Homo sapiens: one gene and its partners. The protein of the gene in region 1 purifies or fractionates together with the protein of each later gene. This does not show direct contact. Each region holds a gene or a part of one and is shown in the gene's direction. Other genes may lie near its edges.

Region 1 (7,131 bases):
TGGTACCTATCGGAATTCCAGTTGCCATCCTTTAGGATAGGGTCCTTGGACAGACAGAATGAGGGCAGGTGTGAACATGCTGAGCTCACATGGTGCCAGTTACCCTTGCCCTTGACTCTTAGACAATTCATTTTGAAGTGAACTAATACACTAGGCAAACAACTTCAAAACTCTGGAAATGGAAATGAAATAGCAAGATGCCAGGCTGGGCGCGGTGGCTCACGTCTGTAATCCCAGCACTTTGGGAGGCCGAGGCAGGCAGATCACCTGAGGTCAGGGGTTTGAGACCAGCCTGGCCAACATGGTGAAACCCCATCGCCACTAAAAAATACAAAATTTAGCCGAGCGTGGTGATGCATGCCTGTAATCCCAGCTACTGGGGAGGCTGAAGCAGGAGAATCGCTTGAACCCAGAAGGTGGAGGTTGCAGTGAGATGAGATTGCGCCACTGAACTCCAGCCTGGGCGACAGAGCGAGACTCCATTTGAAAAAAAAAGAAAAGAAGTAGCAAGATGCCACCACACTGACAAACCGCATCTCTGTGCTTTCCTCCTGGGGAGCAGATCTTTTCAAGCAGGGAGGACAGCAGGCTGTGGGTGGGGAGCAGAGGGTTGGCTGGGACCCAACCGGAAAGGCACCCCCTCCTTCCAGAACCAGGCAGGTTTGTGGCCTCACCAAACCCAGGCAGCCTGGGCACCAAAGCCACGGAGCAGGGTGGCACTGATGCCTGGGCCTCCCAACCGCTCCTGGGGCTTGGCAAACAAGTGATAGTCCTGATCAAGTGCTCTAGTGCTCTTGGTGGAAACCAATGTATGGAACTCATTACCCACCCTCCTGCCAAATCAGACACACCCAGGCCGGCTCCCTCTGCTACTCCCTCTGCCCGGAAGGTCTTTTCCCACCCCAGTCTCTGCCCGCCTGAGTCCTGGCAGTCTGTGAAAGCCCAGCTCAAATGCCACTTCCACAGTTCCCCAGCCTTTCCCATGGAGCCCCCAGGAGCAGATTGCACCGCTCTTTTGGCACTTGGAGTTGCAACAGTCTGAATGTGTGTGTACCCTCAGAATTGATGTGTTGAGATCCTGACCCCTAAGGTGATGGTCCTAGGAGGTGGGGTCTTCAGGTGGGCGGAGCCTCATTCATGGCATGAGTGCCCTTGTCCAAGGGGCCCCAAAGGCTCTCTGGCTGTCTCTTGGCCATGTGAGGACACAGTGGGAAGGCAGCCATCTACAACCCAGGAAGCAGCTCTCACTGGAACCCTGACTGTGCTGTCACCGTGATCGCAGACTTCCAGCCTCCAGAACTGTGAGGAGTGTCTGTTGTGTATAAGCCACCCAGTCTCTGGTGTTCTGGGATAGCAGCCCAGACACACTAAGACAGGGGTTCCTGAGTGCCTGGAGAGCCAGCTCCCTCCCCAAGAGGCTGGGTCCCTCCTTCTTTCTTTCTTCTTTTCTTTTCTTTTTTTTTTTTTTTTTTTTTTGAGATGGAGTCTCGCTGTGTCACCGAGGCTGGAGAGTACAGTGGCACAACCTCTGCCTCCTTGGTTCAAGCGATTCTCCTGCCTCAGACTCCCGAGTAGCTGGGAATACAAGTGTGTGCACCACCACGCCCGGCTAATTTTTTTGTATTTTTAGTAGAGATGGGGTTTCGCCATGTTAACCAGGCTGGTCTGGAACTCGTGACCTCAAGTGATCCGCCCGCCTCAGCCTCCCAAAGTCCTGGGATTCCAGGCGTGAGCCACCACACCCGGCACATTTGTGCTCTTTTGCTTGTGTTTTCTCCTCTTTAGCTCTGAACTCATGAAGTGCCTTCTGAACATTTCTAGTCTGGTCTCAGGGGACCTGAGGGTATTTTCCCACCCCCCAAGCCTAGAGAGCTGGGGAAACAGAGGCAGGAATGCAGACCCGGTGGGAGAGGTGGACAAGGGTTTGGGTGTGGGACAAGCAGCAGTGTGTGCTGAGGTTTAGGGAAGGGCCAGGGTCCTGGAACACAGAGAGGGCCAGGAACACCGGGGGACATGCATGACCTCTAGCACATTTGGGCCTGGGCCTCTCTCCAACATTTCCTTACTTATGCACTGTTATAGGTTGAATCCTGTTCCCTGAAAAAGACGTATTCGGATCCTAACCCCCAGGACCTGTGGCTGTGACCTTATTTGGAAATAGAGTATTTTCAGATGTGACTGAGTTAAGATGAGGGCATACTGGAGTAGAGCGTGCCCTAATCCAACAACTGGTGTCCTGATAAGAGGAAATGGGCACCGGGCACAGTGGCTCACGCCTGTAATCCTAGCACTTTGGGAGGCTGAGGCAGGCAGATTACTCGAGCCCAGCAGTTTGAGTGGGCAACAGAGCAAGACTCCCTAAAAAAAAAAAAAAAAAGGACATTTGAACACAGACACAGAGAAAAGGCAAATGACAACAGAGACTGATATTAGAGCGCATCTTACAGCTACAAGCCAAGGAACGCCAAGAATTGCCAGCCAGTACCAGAAGCTGGGACAGACGCCCAGGACAGAGTCTCCCTCAGATCCTGCAGAAGGAAGCCACGCTGCAGCACCTTACTGAAACACAGCATTTCTTTCTATTCCAAATGGAGAGAATACACCAGAGTGGTATGAGCAGTTACCTGTGACTTTGTCACTAACCAAAATTACAGATATCTCTGGGTGCGGTGGCTCATGTCTGTAATCCCAGCACTTTGGGAGGCCGAGGCGGGTGGATCACCTGAAGTCAGCAGTTCGAGACCAGCTTGGCCAACATGGTGAAACCCCGTCTCTACTAAAAATACAAAAATTAGCCAAATGTGGTGGCGGGCGCCTGTAATCCCAGCTACTCAAGAGTCCGAGGAGGGAGAATCGCTTGAACCCAGGAGACAGAGGTTGCAGTGAGCTGAGATTGCGCCACTGCACTCCAGCCTGGGCGACAAGAGCGAAACTCCATCTAAAAAAATAAAAATAAAAAAACATTATTTGGAATTTTCAATGCGAAATATGTCTGTTCTCCCCAGCTTGTTAATTTATTATTTATTTATATCGGCATGGACTCATAGATGTTTATTTTACACTTTGGGTTATAATCAGTGCTACTTTACTTATTTTGTTGTCATTCTGGTGTAGTGTTTTAACTTAACATTATTGAGATATAACTCATACAATAAAACGCACCACTTTAAGTGCATAATTAGATGAGCTTTAAATACTTCCAGTTGGGGAACCCCCAACCCCACCACAGGTGTCCCCAGTGTCCAGGGGCCAGAACTACATTCCTCAGACAAGGGACTTAGGGAATGACGTCAACTTCCCATTTCAGGTCTAGAAAAGTCCAAGTTCCCTACTTGGGGTAAAGAGTCGCTAAAGGAGCTGGGCGCTGTGGCTCACGCCTGTAATCCCAGCACTTTGGGAGGCCGAGGCAGGTGGATCACCTGAGGTCACGAGTTCAAGACCAGCCTGGACAAGGTGAAACTCCGTCTCTACAAAAAAATACAAAAATTTGCCTGGTGTGGTGGCAAGCGCCTATAATTCCAGCTACTTGGGAGGCTAAGGCAGGAGAATCACTTGAATCCGGGAGGCGGAGGTTGCAGTGAGCCGAGATAGCGCCCCTGCACTCCAGCCTGGGCGACAAGAGAGGAACTCTGTCTCAAAAAAAAAAAAAAAAAGAGTCGCTAAGGGGCAAAAACATATGTACATCAGCAGTTATTTTTCTCTGCAGTCAGCAGCTCAGGAACTTTGCTAAGGGTGCCAGGGAGGGGTCGAGCGCAAAGGTGCAGGCATGACACAGCTAGACGCGCCCAGCCCCTGCGGAGCGCTGGCCTGGCCCAGAAGGACCAGAGGGATGGAGGCTGAGTCCTTCCCATTCCTTCCACTGTACCTCTCGCGTTCTCCGCCCGCGCTCACTCAGTTTCACACCCTTTCAGCAGCGCCCTTCCTTAGGACCACGCGGACTCCCCTGGGGGTCGCGCGGGCTCGGAGGCCTCCCTGCGTTGTCTGGGCGGGGACTGGGAGTCCGCGGGCCCGCAGGCGGGCGGTGCTGCGGGGCGGGCCGAGCTGGGGGCGGGCGGGGGCCGGAGCCCTGGCCTAGGTCCCAGGGGGAGGTGCCGCGGCGCGAACGGCCCGGGTCCCTCCCAGGCCGGAGCACAATCGGCGGCGCCCTGGGCGGCCGCGGAGTCATGGACGGCAGTGGACCCTTCAGCTGCCCCATCTGCCTAGAGCCACTCCGGGAGCCGGTGACGCTGCCCTGCGGCCACAACTTCTGTCTCGCCTGCCTGGGCGCGCTCTGGCCGCATCGTGGCGCGAGTGGAGCCGGCGGACCCGGAGGCGCGGCCCGCTGCCCGCTGTGCCAGGAGCCCTTCCCCGACGGCCTTCAGCTCCGCAAGAACCACACGCTGTCCGAGCTGCTGCAGCTCCGCCAGGGCTCGGGCCCCGGGTCCGGCCCCGGCCCGGCCCCTGCCCTGGCCCCGGAGCCCTCGGCACCCAGCGCGCTGCCCAGTGTCCCGGAGCCGTCGGCCCCCTGCGCTCCCGAGCCGTGGCCCGCGGGCGAAGAGCCAGTGCGCTGCGACGCGTGCCCCGAGGGCGCGGCCCTGCCCGCCGCGCTGTCCTGCCTCTCCTGCCTCGCCTCCTTTTGCCCCGCGCACCTGGGCCCGCACGAGCGCAGCCCCGCCCTCCGCGGACACCGCCTGGTGCCGCCGCTGCGCCGGCTAGAGGAGAGCCTGTGCCCGCGCCACCTACGGCCGCTCGAGCGCTACTGCCGCGCGGAGCGCGTGTGTCTGTGCGAGGCCTGCGCCGCACAGGAGCACCGCGGCCACGAGCTGGTGCCGCTGGAGCAGGAGCGCGCGCTTCAGGAGGTGGGCTCCGGGGGCACACTCGGGTGAGCCGGGGCTGGTGACCGACCGCGCGCGAGCGGGCCGAGGACCTTGGACCCCCCAGTCTTCCCGGGTTGGGTCTTAATCTCCTCCTCTAACCTGAGGATCTTTGCGGTCCCTTCCAGCCTTGACAAGGTCATCTGCTGGCGGTGATGGAGATGGGAAGGGAGGAAGGAGGGACGTGAGAACAGGACAAGGACGCGAAGAGCGGGCAGGGGACCTGAAGCCGGGCCGGGGTCTATGGGGGTGTAGGCGGGAGGGAGCCGGGTTAGGCCCGCGGGGTTCCGGTAGCGTGGCTGCTGCTCCCGCCCGGAGGGTCACGCCGGTCTCAGCTCAGATTTGCCCTGGGCTGAGGCAGCAGCTTTCGATGGGTGTGGCAGGCGGCAGGAGGGCGGCAGAGGGCGACCGGGCACACAGATTCTCTGTCCAGCTGTTCCGGGGGCCAGTGGTGGGAGCATGTGAGCCGCGGCCTCTACCTCCCGCCCCCAGTTTCCTTTGGCCTCCAGCCCGGTCTTGGCGCCTCTGGCCAAGGGATTTTCCGTTTCTCCTGCCTGGAGCAGTGACTCATAAGACCTAGGGGATTTGCCCGGAATCCCCTTTTTTCCAGGCCTGGACTGTGGATGCAGGCTCTTTGGGAACAGTGATCCTCAGGACAGCTTAATGCCTCCTTGTGCAGTCACCCCTCCGCCGCCCACCTCCCAACCTAACTGGCTTACTCTCTGCCTCTTCCCCGCCGGAGGAAGTTCTCAAATTCATCTGAGCAACACTGAGACCAGCGGACGGCCCTGTACTAGGCCTCCTGTCAGAGACCCGAGGCAGACACCCAGTCAGCCTGCACGCCCCCCAGGCGTTCAGGAAAGGCACCAGCCTGGGCTGCAGGCACCTCTGGCATATTATGGGACATCGTGGCCACTCCAGTCCCACCTGATGCACAGATACCACTCCCCAGTCACCCCCTTCTCTCCCCTGGCAAGGCCTGGGACCCGAGTGTAGGGCTGTGGCCTCTGCCAGACCTCACACTCATGGAGGGTGTTGTCCACAGGCTGAGCAGTCCAAAGTCCTGAGCGCCGTGGAGGACCGCATGGACGAGCTGGGTGCTGGCATTGCACAGTCCAGGCGCACAGTGGCCCTCATCAAGGTCAAACACCCCTCCCTCAGCATGGAACAATCCACTCCAAACAAACCATGCCCATACCTACTGAGCACAAGTGTCCCCTGACCTGGCCCAGATCCAGGACAGGCTCAGTCTGGCCCCTCTGTCCCCTCAAGAGGGCCGGTGGGAAGCCGGGGTCAGGGAAGGAGGGGGGTACAGTCCGGGACGGTTCTTTGCCCTCATTGCCCCCTCTACTGTCGTCCTGTGCAGAGTGCAGCCGTAGCAGAGCGGGAGAGGGTGAGCCGGCTGTTTGCAGATGCTGCGGCCGCCCTGCAGGGCTTCCAGACCCAGGTGCTGGGCTTCATCGAGGAGGGGGAAGCTGCCATGCTAGGCCGCTCCCAGGGTGACCTGCGGCGACAGGAGGAACAGCGCAGCCGCCTGAGCCGAGCCCGCCAGAATCTCAGCCAGGTCCCTGAAGCTGACTCAGTCAGCTTCCTGCAGGTGAAGGCCGCTCTGGGGGCCACGGAAGGAACAGAAGCTGGGACAGGTGGGGTGGAGGGAGGAGGAGGCAGTGGGTGCATGACTTCCTGGCAGAGCTGCCTCCACCCCCAGCAAGGAGGAGCCATGGCCAGCAGCACTTTAATGGGCATTTGTCTGGCACAGGAGCTGCTGGCACTAAGGCTGGCCCTGGAGGATGGGTGTGGCCCTGGGCCTGGACCCCCGAGGGAGCTCAGCTTCACCAAATCATCCCAAGCTGTCCGTGCAGTGAGAGACATGCTGGCCGTGGCCTGCGTCAACCAGTGGGAGCAGCTGAGGGGGCCGGGTGGCAACGAGGATGGGCCACAGAAGCTGGACTCGGAAGGTGGGCACCGCCCCACGCCCCCCCGATGACTCACCCTCTGCCAGCCTCTCGCACAGGCCCCCAGGCCTGGCGCCCATCCAGAAGTGGAGGAGGAAAATTGTGCCTGGCACAGGGAGGAGCCCAAATCCTGCCAGTGACTAGAGCTGCCACCCTGTGGGGATCAATCAGCCCCTTGGACCTGGGGTAGAGGGGGCTTCTCCTAGCCCACCCTCTAGCTCCAGAGGGCTGTGGCCCGGGAAGCACATGGGGCAAGAGGCAGAACACAGGCAACGGGCATGTGTGTGAGCACAGCGTGCCACATCTGGGTGGTGCTTGCTCCC
Region 2 (7,026 bases), on another chromosome or scaffold:
CTTTTCTTGATTATATGGTAAGAAGTAGGCTATGGTTAAACAGAAGAAAAAATATTTACAGAAAAGCCATGCTAATACAAACTGGCTTTCAACAAATCCAGATTTAAATAGCTCCAGTGTAAGAATTTACAACAAAAACAAGCTATATCAAATTACTAGACAGCTAGGAAAAATGGTAATTATTCTCTCTGGTTTTCCTAAATATGATCCCCTTAGTTTCATAAGCTCAATACTTCAAATACCATCAAAGTTCATAAAATAATTCTACTTACCTGTTCTTATCAATTCTAATTAAAACTATACTTTAAAAATGACTTTGATATTGTCTAATCACTTTACTATAAATGATGGGAAAATTGATGTCTAATATATAACTGAAAATAATTATCTGTTAATTTTTTTGAAGTTAATTACAATGTTAATGCCATTGCATGCTGAGGTTATTTCTGAATACTGGATATTTTGTTTTACCAGTATCATCAAGGTTTTTTGTTTGTGTTTTTTTTTTTTTTAATTGAGCTTGGCACTTCAACCTAATGTGCATATCACGAAGTGTATTCAATTTTTTAAAAATATTTATTGTTAACAGCCCTCTATTACTAATGGACACCTAAATACTGACTCTAAAACACATGAGTTTTAATGCATCAGTACGTTGGATATTTGAAAACCCTTCACTTCTTCCTGTTTCTTTAGGGGTAAACTGATCCAATCACATCTTTGGCCCAAAACTTGACTAGGTCTGTCACATAACTCTTGGAACTTTGATAGTAGAAAACTTTTTCTATGCATTAATTTACAAAAGCCAATGGGGAGTTTAAAAAGCAGTTAGATGTTTGTTACCTTCTTTTGAGATGGTTTATGTTTTTTTCATAAGAATTAATATACATACACATATAAAATGTATACATATAAAACATATACATTAGATTTCTAATATTTTGAACTATGATCATCTTTCCATCCTTTATTAAAGTGTTTCTGCTGTATTTTGTAATGTGTTTCTAATTGTTAAAAATTGGGACTACGTAAATGCAATTTGCTGTTTTCTTTTTAGCTATACTTGTAATAATTCTTGTTCTAAAAGTAAGCCCATTTTTCCCCACTTAGTTTTTTTATAGGCCAGTTATCTTTTTATTCATGTGTATTGGTACAGTTTCCACAGATCATTTTGTTAATTTGAATAAGAATGTAATGCTATCATCTAGAAATATAGTAACATCTGTATCATATCTAGATAGGCCATTTTACAAATACATTATATTTGTGGAGAGATATCTAGAGCTAAAACATTTACATAGGACACATATATACACGTAGGTCCCCGCCCAACTATAACGTGTCTTCTTTTTAAATTCTGGCAGGTGATCTTTAGACAGTGACTGAGTATGGATCATTTGAACGAGGCAACTCAGGGGAAAGAACATTCAGAAATGTCTAACAATGTGAGTGATCCGAAGGGTCCACCAGCCAAGATTGCCCGCCTGGAGCAGAACGGGAGCCCGCTAGGAAGAGGAAGGCTTGGGAGTACAGGTGCAAAAATGCAGGGAGTGCCTTTAAAACACTCGGGCCATCTGATGAAAACCAACCTTAGGAAAGGTAAATACCTTCAAGCCAAATCTTGAAAAGCTGAAAGCCCTGTTGTCTACACAAGGCCACACTGTGTGGGGGTGGAGTGGCAGAACATGTTTTGTATACTCTGCCTTTATTCTCCTTATGATCGTACATTAGTTACATTCTGGGTCCTTAGTATCAATCACGTTGGAAAGTATAGCCTCCATGCTTGGGTGGAGCGTTCTACTGTAGACTGGAATCATGGAACATTTTGGGTAATAAGGACTGAATTAAATATAATGGTTTTAGTTTTGGCAGGGTCCATTCAAAAGGTGTTGTAGTCGAGGATTGTAGGCAGCTGTTTCTTCAAACTAACCTGATTAAGAATAAAACACTTAGGTGATTTGAGAGTTACCCTAGCTTCTTCCTAAGATTCTTAGTTGTAGGGCAGTTTCAGAGATCTTGGACATCTTATGTAGAAGTTTGGTAATGTTATTTTTTGTGGCTTATTTTCTTAAGAGCAAATTCATTAGCAGTAAAAAATCTGATGATTCTAGTTTTTTATTTTTGTTTTAATTGGGTATTTTTGATGAAGAAAGAACAGATTTAGGCAAGTTTATAAGGGGAAGATGTGTAACTGTGTGACTTTTTTCTACCAATATTAAATTGATGCAGTTTAACAACTTGGACTGTGTTTAACAGTGTTGTTCCTGTAAAGCAGTGCCTACCCTGGGTGTAATGCATGTGCCTCATAAGGAGCTTCATTTTGTGTCTGAATAACATGTATAGGAATCAGATTTTCCTTACATTTGCTAAGCAATGGATAAAAATGCTATATTTTAGCAACCAAGAATATTAAGTAGATAAAGTTAGAAGGCAGAGGAATTTCATTGTGTTTGATGCGTAACATTTATCATACAATCATTTATTTTTTCCTTGGTTTGGCGAAAACAAAGAATATATTGATCCTGAAATGAACAGACACAGCAGTCCGTATTGTTAGATCTTTATCTATTAAAAATGGGAAAACAGCACTTCAGCAAATTCTTTGGCCTCTACTCATGATTACCCTATTTATTGATTGTTTGCCAAGAATGTATGCATCTTAAGAAAGCCAGGGTAAGAGCATTAAAAATATAATTTATTACGGCTTTTCAAACAGAGTGCATTAATATTGTACTGTGAAGCACTGGGGCTGTATAAAAAAGACTTTCTGACGCCTGCAAACATGTAAGTTCCATAAATTCCTAAATAGGAGATTTCAGCTGTCTCTGGTATTATGTGATATTTGCACAGCAAACTTTAATGCCAGGACAGTTTTAGACAAGGATTCTACAGACTTCACTGCTCCTTATGGCAGACGTGCTGTTTACACAGGCTCATAAACCTTCAGCAAAAGCTTCTAAGACTGCCTTCAGGTTTAAATCATGTGGTATTTTTAGCATTCAGCAGTGACCAGTGCTCTCCCCTTTAAATGCTGGAAGGTTATGAAGTTGCTGTAGTTGGAACTCTCGCCAAACACTAGCACGAATAATCATACAGTTCAGAAAAGGCTTGTGTTCAGCATTACTCCCAGAAACGGGAGGGTAACCGCAACAGTTTGCTAGAAGGTCTGTAATTAGATAGTACTATTGTCACTTTATAGCCGTCTTTATTATTTTAGGGTACCTCTAAACATGATCAATAAAATCCACAATAAATCCAATATATTTCAATAGTTTGAAAACCCTGCAGTTATTTCATAGATCTAAGGAAAAGCATATTGTAGAATACATCTGATTCATCCTACAAAAGGAAAAATGAATGTGTACATTTTTGTTGTACTTACCCAACTCTTTGAAGATATCAGGACAGGAGGAGGAAAACTAAAAGTACAGTAAATTCACTTCCTGCTCAAATGCTTTTTGGTTTTGTTTTGTTTTGTTTTGGATGTATTCTAAAAATGCAGTTTAATTGTAGGAGGGTCTCAGATACTCCAAATAACAAAATTACTAAAGTCTTTTTGTGGGTTTTTATTAACATTTTCATCTTATTTTTCATGTGCATGGTTTCTGTCTGATAGGTGCTAAATGAAAATTATGGCTGAGATGAGAAAACACTACTAAGAAAAAGGGATTGAATGGTTTTATTTGTTTAGGCGATTTTGCCAGAATACCTTCAAGCCAAGGAAGGAATCGCCAGTTTGCATATTGCTATTTTTGCTGTGGTCTCCCCAAGTTGTCTTCTGATCCCCGACGGGTTCTTTCTCTGGTATAAAACAGCTGAATGAATGACAAAAATATTGGCAAGCTCTGCGGCTTGTTTTTCATGCCTAGCCTATTGGTACCTCCGAATGAGTTTGTGAGTTTTTCTAAGTAAACCTAAAGGGTTTTGTCAGACCTAGAATCTCTTGTGAACAGTTCACTAAAGCTTTGGTGAAGACTCACATGTAGAAAGATGTAGCTGTTTTATTGCCGGCTTTTGTTCAGCAGAAACAAGCAAATAGAGAATCTTTGAAGGGCCTCTCTGGTGTCAGTAGGAAATCCTGATTTTTAGCTACGGTTGGTGTGCACTAAGTCATCTTCAGAAGTTGGTAGGATTCTGTGAGTCCAGAGGACAGAGCTTATAGAGGCATTAGTATTGTAGGACTAATTGTGGATCCTGGGTGCCCTGTTAAAGTAACCCTTGTCATCATTTATGCTAAAGATGATACCCTTCTGGCAGTTTGCCACAGTACAATTCAGATGCATCTGCTTTTAACCCTTTTCCGTTATCATTGGAAGTCTGACAGTGCGCTGCATAAACACCTTGAGTACCACAGCATTCCGTAATATCAATTTCTAGAAGAAGCCTCTTTCTAATAGTAGTGTGGCCGGTGCTTATTAATCATCTAGCTACTGAGTTACTGTATTGGATTAAAATATATAAAGAGAGAGCACACCAAATCTATGCAGATTCCTTTATCCTAGTATGTCAGTTTCCTTTTCTATCTCTCATTTTTACCTTATTTACTGTAACAAAGATTGTTGATTTTAAAGACTTATGGGTACCGTGCTCTCTTTTTAGTTAGGTAGGTTAAATGAGTATTCATAAAAGCAAATGTTATTTTTCTACATTATGCAGATATTGAAATTGTGTATTATGAGCACCAGTTTGGTTAAGTACTTTTTGTGGAACCAGTTAGAGCTAATATCTAAAAAAGGAAGAAAATGATTTGTGGAACCAGTTAGAGTTAATATCTAAAAAAGGAAGAAAATGAAAATTTCGTGGTCGAAGATAATTTGTTTGGACACAAACCCAGGAAAAGTTTATTATTAACAAAATCATGTAAGCAGTAGAAAGGTGGGTTCTTCTGAAGATAAATGGTGAGTTATGTTTGCATACTGTATACTACTCATAGCAAATTAGAGAAGATACATTTATTTCTCTTTCGTCACCATTATTATTTGATCAGAAAGGTAATTCTGCATTCATTGCTTTTGGAAAATGCACTGTTAATTTAGAGCACAGCTTACCTTAGGACCAAGTTCATATTCTACTTAAATATTTCTGTTACGACTTTAAATAATATGAGAATGTATATATTTGTGTGCATTTGCCTGTACTGTACCCAGTCTGCCTTGGAAGCACAGTGAATCTCTTGTGATTATTTATTTTCATGGCTAATATTTCCTCCCGCCACCCCCAAGCTGTATTTCTGAAGATTGTTGGTTTTCCATCTCTTCTTCTTCATCTTTTTGATAGGAACCATGCTGCCAGTTTTCTGTGTGGTGGAACATTATGAAAACGCCATTGAATATGATTGCAAGGAGGAGCATGCAGAATTTGTGCTGGTGAGAAAGGATATGCTTTTCAACCAGCTGATCGAAATGGCATTGCTGTCTCTAGGTTATTCACATAGCTCTGCTGCCCAGGCCAAAGGTAAATAATGTGTACGTGGGGTTGGAAAAATTGCTTAGCATTCTTTGTTTACCTTGCAGAGAAAGCACTGAATATTTTTATTCAAAGAACTGTAGCCTGTGTATTACATTGGTTCCTTATAGGCTGTGGCTTTAAAAAATTGGCTTAATTCAGTTTGGTTTAGTTAACACACATTTTGCTCATGTGGAATGTCGAGGTAGATTTTTTTTTTAAATTACTTCAGCTGAATCATTAGTATGCTTATTGACCTTAATAATCTGCTCCACTGAGGACCCACAAGGAAGTGAGGAGCGTATTTGAGCAGATGGACTGTTGAGAGTCAATTTGCATTTATGACTGAATATCTAGTTCTGTTTCTTTTATTCTGTTTCTGATGGTTTTATGGGCTGCAAAGTATTTTTCAATGCTGATTCCCACTGCAATAGAGAATCTTATCTAAATCATAAAGCCATTTAGAACTGGTTCGGCTATGTCTTATTAGAACTTCCTGTAAGTTAGGAAAATGTGGCCTTATGCATAGGTTTTATTGATGGGGTTTTATTTCCAAAATAATAAACAACCCTACAGTCATTTACATAATTTTACAATTTGGAAAGCTAAGCTGTGAATATTTTCATTGACCTGCCTTTTAGAGGGAAGGGAATCATTCAAACAGAAATAACGGTACTGCTTGTGGTAGGGGTAGTAGAAAAGAAAAGAACACCCTTCTAGTAGATATATTATCTGAGGGTAAAATATTTAGTGACATATTCTCTTTATCTGAAATAGGGCTAATCCAGGTTGGAAAGTGGAATCCAGTTCCACTGTCTTACGTGACAGATGCCCCTGATGCTACAGTAGCAGATATGCTTCAAGATGTGTATCATGTGGTCACATTGAAAATTCAGTTACACAGGTGAGTCAAGACAGCAAATCTAGGGTGAAACATTCTTCTTACCTGGTCTTTTGAAATGAAGCATTTCTCTCTGGTCGACCTTCAATTTTTTTTTAGTCTGTGTTTCAGAAAGGTTAATACAGATCGATTTTGTTACCCTATCCTTCTGCCTTTTTTCCTAACTTCAATGTATAATTTAAAAGCAATCCCCCCCCCCACACACACAAAAAATGTGTAGGTTTGTGCAGGTTATCAAAAGACAAGACTTTTTACGTTTAGTCAATTAAATAATGCATCACAAGAAGGCATTTTACATAAAGTTTACTTAAGAAAAAAATATTTTTGCATATCATGAACAGTGCCATCTGTGTACATTTTGTGAAAGACTGTCTTATTCACTATTACCACAGTCTTATTTATTTATTTATTTTTTTATGATTTTTAATTCATATGAACAGAGTAATGAAAGGAAATCGGTTAATACATTAAAGCTTTTCATGATGGCTCAGGAGAAAGCAGTACACCTTAAATTGTCTTCCCAAGCGCATCAGAGCAGGAAGGTAGAAGTAACATGAAAAAATAGCCACCACAGGCAGCTGATGTATAATTCATGCATCGATACAGCAGATGTGTTGTATAAAGTAATTAACTAATCGGAACAATCAGGAGACCGAGAGCAATCTCCAGATGCATCTGTT
Region 3 (7,026 bases), on another chromosome or scaffold:
CCTTGCAAAATATCAAATCCACAGAATAGCAGGAGAGGTTTGTAGCAAAATTCTTCCTTGCAGAGGAAGACATCTGGCTAATGTGTTAACCACAACTAAAGCAGTGTTGATGTTTACTAAGCCCATTCTCCATCTCAGTCCCCCCAAATAATACTTTTTAAGGAAAAAAAACCTGGGAAATTGAGAGACATTGGCTATCAACTAAAAAAAAAAAATCAAGCCAGCTTGCAACAGCAGCTTGAATTATGAATGACAGAATTCTCAACAATAAGGCTCGGCTGTCTTCTCAATGAACCAGAAGTGACTTTTTTAAAAGACAGAAAGTGGGGCCTGGTGCGGTGGCTCACCCCGGTAATCCCAGCACTTTGGGAGGCCCAGGCGGGCGGATCACGAGGTCAGGAGATTGCGACCATCCTGGCTAACACGGTGAAACCCCATCTCCACCAAAAATACAAAAAATCAGCCGGGTGTGGTGGCAGGCCCCTGTAGTCCCAGCTACCTGGGAGGCTGAGGCAGGAGAATGGTGTGAACCTGGGAGGCGGAGCTTGCAGTGAGCCGAGATCGCACCACTGCACTCCAGCCTGGGTGACAGAGCAAGACTCTGTCTCAAAAAATAAATAAATAAATTAATTAATTAATAAAAAGAAAGTGATGATGAGTATGACACAGACCTCTAAGTCATTTCAGTTTTTTGAAGCCTTATTGATTGCTTGAAACAGCTGAAACCAGTTGAGGGCTCATGAGGCATAAACATAGACATCTATAATGCTTCCAAGGGGATTTTTCCTGCTTTCTGCAGAGATGATTGTTGGCTAGAATCGCACCATGGTGCCCACGCCCAGTGGGGCAGCATCAGTAACTGTGACCCTGCCATGGTGACCAGGCCTTGCTACACGATTCCTGGAAAGGCACGTGGAAGGATGTGTGGTCATGTTGCATGCAGCTCCTGCCACAGCATCTTTCCAGGGCCTACCGACTACTACTATTTCTTTTTTGAGACAGAGTCTCTCTCTGTCGCCCAGGCTGGAGTGCAGTGGCGCCATCTCAGCTCCCTGCGACCTCTGCCTCCCTGGTTCAAGCGATTTTCCTGCCTCAGCCTCCTGAGTAGCTGGGACTACAGGCGCCCACCACCACGCTTGGCTAATTTTTTGTATTTTTAGTAGAGACGGGGTTTCATTGTTTTAGCCAGGATGGTCTCGATCTCCTGACCTCGTGATCCGCCCACCTCGGCCTCCCAAAGTGCTGGAATTACAGGCGTGAGCCACCGCGCCCGGCCACGACTACTACTATTCTTTCTCTTTCTTCTCCCTGTCCCTCCCCCTTCTCCCTCCCTCCTCCTCCCCCTGCTCCTCCTCGTCCCCCCCTTCCTCCTCTGCCTTCTTCCCCTCCTCCTTCTCCCTCCTCTTCTTCTTCCTTTTCTTCCTTCTTCCTTTTTCTTTCTTTTTTTCTTTTTTTGAGATGGAGTCTCCTGTGTCGCCCAGGCTGGAGTGCAGTAGCACGATCTCGGCTCACTGCAAGCCCTGCCTCCCGGGTTCACGCCATTCTCCTGCCTCAGCCTCCCGAGTAGCTGGGACTACAGGCGCCCGCCACCACGCTTGGCTAATTTTTTTTGTATTTTTAGTAGAGACGGGGTTTCACCGTGTGTTAGCCAGGATGGTGGCAATCTCCTGACCTCGTGATCCGCCCGCCTCGGCCTCCCAAAGTGCTAGGATTACAGGCGTGAGCCACTGCGTCCGGCCTTTTTTTTTTCTTCTTTTTTTTCTTTTTTTTGAGACAAGGTCTCACTCTGTCGCCCAGGCTGAGAGCAGTGGCGCCATCATGGCTCACTGCAGCCTCACCCTCCCGGGTTTAAGCCATCCTCCTACCTCAGCCTCCTGAGTGGCTGGGACTACAGGTGCACCACCACACCTGGCTAATTTTTGTATTGTCTGTAGAGACAAGGGGGTCTCGCTATGTTTCCCAGGCTGGTGTTGAACTCCTGGGCTGAGGCGATCCTCCCGCCTCGACCTCCCAAAGTGTTGGGATTACGGGCATGAGCCACGGTGCCTGGCCCCACCAGTGTCTGGCTGGAGACATCCTGACAGGGCGAATTCTCCTGCAATGCTGGGTAACCATCATGGTTTGTCCAAATATTGAGTTGAAATCTGTTTCATTTTGCTCACTTGGCTGTTTAGAGCATAAGAAAATAAGATTCTTTGACATGTTTGGAAACAGTGTTTCTGCCCTCCCAATAATGCCCACCACACCCACTTTTTTTCCCTTTAAGCTGAACATCTTTCACAGGAGAGGGATCTGAGACTTCTCTCTAGCCTGATCACCCTCTACTGGACATACTCTAACTTGCAATGTCCTTTACAGCTCCCACCACAAAAGCAGAGATTCAGAAAAGTAGGGTTTGGTTTCTGCTCCGAGGAAAGACCACTGTGGACGTGACAGTCTCTCCTCCCCCAGGCCCTCCGTTTCTGTGCCTACTTCTCCTTATGTGATGACATGGAATAATATGTGATGACATGGAGCCAGTGCCTACAGCAGGTGGTGGCCTCAGATAGGCAGAGAAAGGAAGGGTCCAGAGGTTTCTGATTTTGCCAAGTGCTCCGTGCTCATTGGTCCCTGGGCATCTGCAGGAGAATGGAATATGTTTCCCTTGGAGGAAAGGCATGCATTGCTGAGCATTTGGAGGAAGGAATTAGAAAGGGGGCTGATCCCAGCTCTTTGGGAGGCTGAGGCAGGCGGATCACCTGAGGTCCAGAGTTCGAGACCATCTTGGCCAACATGGTGAAACCCCATCTCTACTAAAAATAAAAAAAAAAATTAGCCAGGCGTGGTGGTGGGCGCCTGTAATCCCAGCTACTTGGGAGGCTGAGGCAGGAGAATCACTTGAACCCAAGAGGTGGAGGTTGTAGTGAGCCAAGATTGTGCCACTGCACTCCAGCCTGGCGATAGAGCAAGACTCTGTCTCCAAAAAAAAAAAAAAAAAAAAAAAAATTGGGGGCTGGGCTAGAAAAGAATTCCTCCAAATCCATGGCTCAGTGGGATAATTTTCTCTTCGTTTTGAGTATGTGGGTCATAGACAAGTATTACTATTATTTTTTATTCCGTGCGAGGAAGTGTATAAATGTAGAGCATTTGGTGACCGTATGTCAGGGAAGGGCTGTTTACTTTTGCACCTTTGCCACAGGCCGGCACGGATGGTTCTGGGCGAGGTGAATCTCTGGGAAAAGGGGCCTTTATTGGCAGAGAACTGGTTACTTGAAGCCTGCAGTGGGAGGAGAGGAGAGTTAGAGTCCTGAGTCCACCCACTGTGTACCTGGCTTCAAGGGAAGCTGGTGATTGTTAAAATGAGCCTCTGACAGGCAGCGCATGTTGACAAAGGCCATTAATTTCATTTTTCAAGGTTGTGCATTGGCAAAACTTGGAATTATTCCCTCAAAGTTTTGATCCTGTAAGTTTAGTCTGTGTTTAGCTCCACTGTACTGTCTGGTGAATACAAACCAAACTGAATCAAATAACCCAGTGCAACCAGCTAACTAACCACCTCCCCAGGTGAAAACTAGGAGGGGCAGGGAAGCGGTGGAAAGAAATGGGTTTGTGGTTTTCTGGTTTGTGGTTTTCTCATTTATATGAGTAGTTGTTATGCTTGAATGTGAAGTTCTTACACTTGAGTGTGAAGGTCACCCCTTCACATTGCATAGTGCAATGCAGATTCTCAGGCCCCGCCATGGAAAGTCTGACAGTGTGTCTAGGCTGTAGCCCCAGAATATGCATTTCTTTTCTTTTTCTTAAAGAGGCAGGTTCTCATTCTGTCACCCAGGCATGTGCAGTGGAATGATAATGGCTCACTGCAGCCTCGACCTCCCAGGTTCAAGTGATCCTCCAGCCTCAGCCTCCTTAGTAGCCACAGGCACATGCCACCATGCCTGGCTAATTAAAAAAAAATTTTTTTTCGTAGAGATGGGGTCTCCCAGTGTTGCACAAACTGGTCTCAAACTCCTTGCCTCAAATGATCCTCCTACCTTAGCCTCCCAAAGTGCTGGGATTATAGGGATGAGTCATGACCCCGGCTGTGAATGTGCATTTTTAATAAATATCCCAGGTGATTCTAATGCAGGTGCTCTGTGGGCCACCCTTTTGAAAGTTATGGGAAGAAATTACCTGGAATGTTTTGCTGGGATGACTTCCTTCTCCAGCTGCGTGATACAGATGCCCCTGCTTACGCTCAGCTGCAGGAATCTAGGAAAAGAATAAGTGAAGTTCGAGAAATTGCATATTTTTATTTCTGCTTAATTCAAGCAGAGAGTAGTTAAGCTGAAAGATTTGTTTGGGGCTGTCTTGATGACCAAAGAGGTCAATCCAGTGTTAATAAAGAAGATCAGGCTGGGCGCAGTGGCTCACGCCTGTAATCCCAGCACTTTGGGAGGCCGAGGCAGGTGGATCACGAGGTCAGGAAATAGAGACCATCCTGGCTAACACGGTGAAACCCCCTCTCTACTAAAAATACAAAAAATTAACTGGGTGTGGTGGCAGGCGCCTGTACTCCCAGCTACTTGGGAGGCTGAGGCAGGAGAATGGTGTGAACCCGCGAGGCGGAGCTTGCAGTGAGCCGAGATAGCACCACTGCACTCCAGCCTGGGCGACAGAGCGAGACTCCGTGTCAAAAAAAAAAAAAAAGAAGAAAATCATTAATAGTAAGAAATCAGTGGTTAGGAGCTGTCTCCTTAAGGGGCTCCCTTCCCTAGTGTTAGAAAAACTCTGGACCACATGACCCAGTGGGCTGTGTTTTTAATGAAAAAATGGATTACGGCACATGCCACGTTCTAAGTGTAGGTATTATTTTGGTAACTTTTTGGTGTGTGTGTGGGGGCACTGGTTTGTGATGTAAAATGTGCTTCTTCCCATGCATCACGGTTAAAACACTGGACAGCATCTGCTCTACCCCATAATGACTCTGGGGAGATATTCTGAGTTCCTACGTTTCTGAGAATTTCCCTGACGTGTGAGTGATATAGACCACATGCTCAGCAGAGTATGGGCTGCAGCGGCAAGAGCTCACAAAACTGATTTCCTCCGCAGACTGGCTGCCCTGCAGCCCAGTGTTAATTTATTTAAATAAAGATGGAGTAGGCAGGTGACAGAGATGGATGCCCGTAATAAGATTAAATTAGTGGGAACTGGCAAGAAGGCATGCTCTTTTTTGGAACTGATAGTGGAGAGATGAGGGAATATCACATTAGAAAAATTGGAGGAGGGCCCTAATTGGAAAGAGGAATCCAGATGCAGGAAATCTGGGTTCTGGTGGGAAGGCTGCCGTGATAATCTAATCAGGATATTGCTGATGTGTAGGGGAAGGCCCCTCTGGGAAGATGCCCTATTTCATTAGAAGAGCACCTTGAGAATGCCTCCTGTTAATGGTTGAACTGTAAAAAAGAATCACAAAACAAAACAAAAACATTCTTTGATTTCTTTCTTGCTCTAGAAATCAACTGATGAGCCTTCTGAGAAGGATGCTCTGCAACCAGGCCGGAACCTGGTGGCAGCCGGCTACGCACTGTATGGCAGTGCCACCATGCTGGTCCTTGCCATGGACTGTGGGGTCAACTGCTTCATGCTGGACCCGGTGAGAGACCTCACAGGAGGCTGGGGGCTTGGCTGGTGTCTGTGAGCAAATGAATGATATGTGTGGGGGATTGGCAGGGGTATGTGGAGGTGGGAGGTGATGCCCATGGAGGGACAGAGATGATGATGTGTGGTGGAAAGGGGGCAGGAGACCAAGAGAGAGTGTATGCCTCCCGAGCAGACTATGGAGGTGAGAAATGCCATCTCAGACTGGCACAAGAGGGGGTCTTTGTTCCAATGTGAATTCCTCAGAGCAGCTGTTACTCAAATGACCCAAATGCCAGGTCCAGGCAGGCCATAGGGATGATGAAGTGTGCTGGGGAAGGAAGGCCGGGGGGCAAGGGTGGAACTGGGGTGAACTGAAGAGTTCCAGCAATTACAATTGGGAGGAGGGGGCCCGCCTTGCCAAGGCTTCTATTAATGGTTCAAGAAACACTGGATTGTAAAAAACATAATGTTTCTGCATGTGTGCAACACTATGTTGGCCAACTAAAATGCATTTATGGACCTGATGGGGCTGTAGATATTCTGTTTGCCATAAACTGTATCCATCCATTTCTAGCTTTTCTACTTTAGTCACCAAAAGGCTGTTTTCCTGAGACGAATGGGTGTGCCAACTGAAGCAGTGGACGACATTGCTTCTTCAAAAATAGCTCCCACATTTATTCGTGTACATTTACACAAACCTTCAGTTAACTGGTGCAGTCTTTCTTTCTTTTTTTTTTTTTTTTCTGAGATGTAGTCTTGCCCTGTCTCCCAGGCTGGAGTGCAGTGGCGTGATCTCGGCTCACTGCAAGTTCTGCCTCCTGGGTTCGAGCGATTCTCCTGCCTCAGCTCCTGAGTAGCTGGGACTACAGGCGCCTGCCACCACACTTGTATTTTTAGTAGAGACGGGGTTTCGCCATGTTGGTCAGGCTGGTCGCGAACTCCTAACCTCAGGTGATCTGCCCGCCTCAGCCTCCCAAAGTGCTGGGATTACAGGCATGAGCCACCATGCCTGGCCAACTTTTTTAACTTTTAGAGATGTCCTCCTATGACATTAGTGAACTATGTGTAAAGTGCTTTTTGCTGGCAAACTGAACCCCAGGAACAGACAAGGAACAGGAACCTTCTGTGCGAGATAGGCTGCTGGAGGTGAGGCCGGGTCTGTGTGTGGCAGGAAGGCTAACTCAACACAGGCTGCCTTTGTCCCAGGCTGTCAGGGAAGTGGACTTTCACCTCCTTGGAAGCATGGGCACTTAACAAATAAACAAGGGTAGGGTAATAGCACTAGTTAAAGTCGCCAAATGTGGTGACCTGGGTAGGGGTGGGGTGGGGGAGTTAGTGGCAGAACCAGAGCAAAGTTCCACCTGAGCCCAGGATGGAATTTCGGGCACCACTGATGTTTGCTGACTGTGATTTGCCGGGCCCTGA

The links. Proteins that work in one complex are often made in the same cells at the same time.
Region 2: the proteins of TRIM47 (region 1) and SATB1 purify together in Homo sapiens (affinity purification with mass spectrometry; 4 studies listed by BioGRID and IntAct, with this or other methods). This does not show direct contact.
Region 3: the proteins of TRIM47 (region 1) and FBP1 purify together in Homo sapiens (affinity purification with western blotting; 3 studies listed by BioGRID). This does not show direct contact.

Annotation. Positions count from the first base shown.
Region 1 is NC_000017.11:75,875,581-75,882,711, reverse strand, and holds the start of TRIM47 (E3 ubiquitin-protein ligase TRIM47), read left to right. Parts: upstream 1-4,130; 5' UTR 4,131-4,163; coding exon 4,164-4,838; exon of another isoform or gene 4,839-4,861; intron 4,862-4,887; exon of another isoform or gene 4,888-4,991; intron 4,992-5,898; coding exon 5,899-5,994; intron 5,995-6,219; coding exon 6,220-6,450; intron 6,451-6,612; coding exon 6,613-6,811; intron 6,812-7,131. UniProt on the Homo sapiens protein: E3 ubiquitin-protein ligase that mediates the ubiquitination and proteasomal degradation of CYLD.
Region 2 is NC_000003.12:18,415,330-18,422,355, reverse strand, and holds part of SATB1 (DNA-binding protein SATB1), read left to right. Parts: intron 1-1,364; 5' UTR 1,365-1,388; coding exon 1,389-1,599; intron 1,600-5,277; coding exon 5,278-5,454; intron 5,455-6,222; coding exon 6,223-6,349; intron 6,350-7,026. UniProt on the Homo sapiens protein: Crucial silencing factor contributing to the initiation of X inactivation mediated by Xist RNA that occurs during embryogenesis and in lymphoma.
Region 3 is NC_000009.12:94,608,509-94,615,534, reverse strand, and holds part of FBP1 (fructose-1,6-bisphosphatase 1), read left to right. Parts: intron 1-5,473; coding exon 5,474-5,614; intron 5,615-7,026. UniProt on the Homo sapiens protein: Catalyzes the hydrolysis of fructose 1,6-bisphosphate to fructose 6-phosphate in the presence of divalent cations, acting as a rate-limiting enzyme in gluconeogenesis. Plays a role in regulating glucose sensing and insulin secretion of pancreatic beta-cells.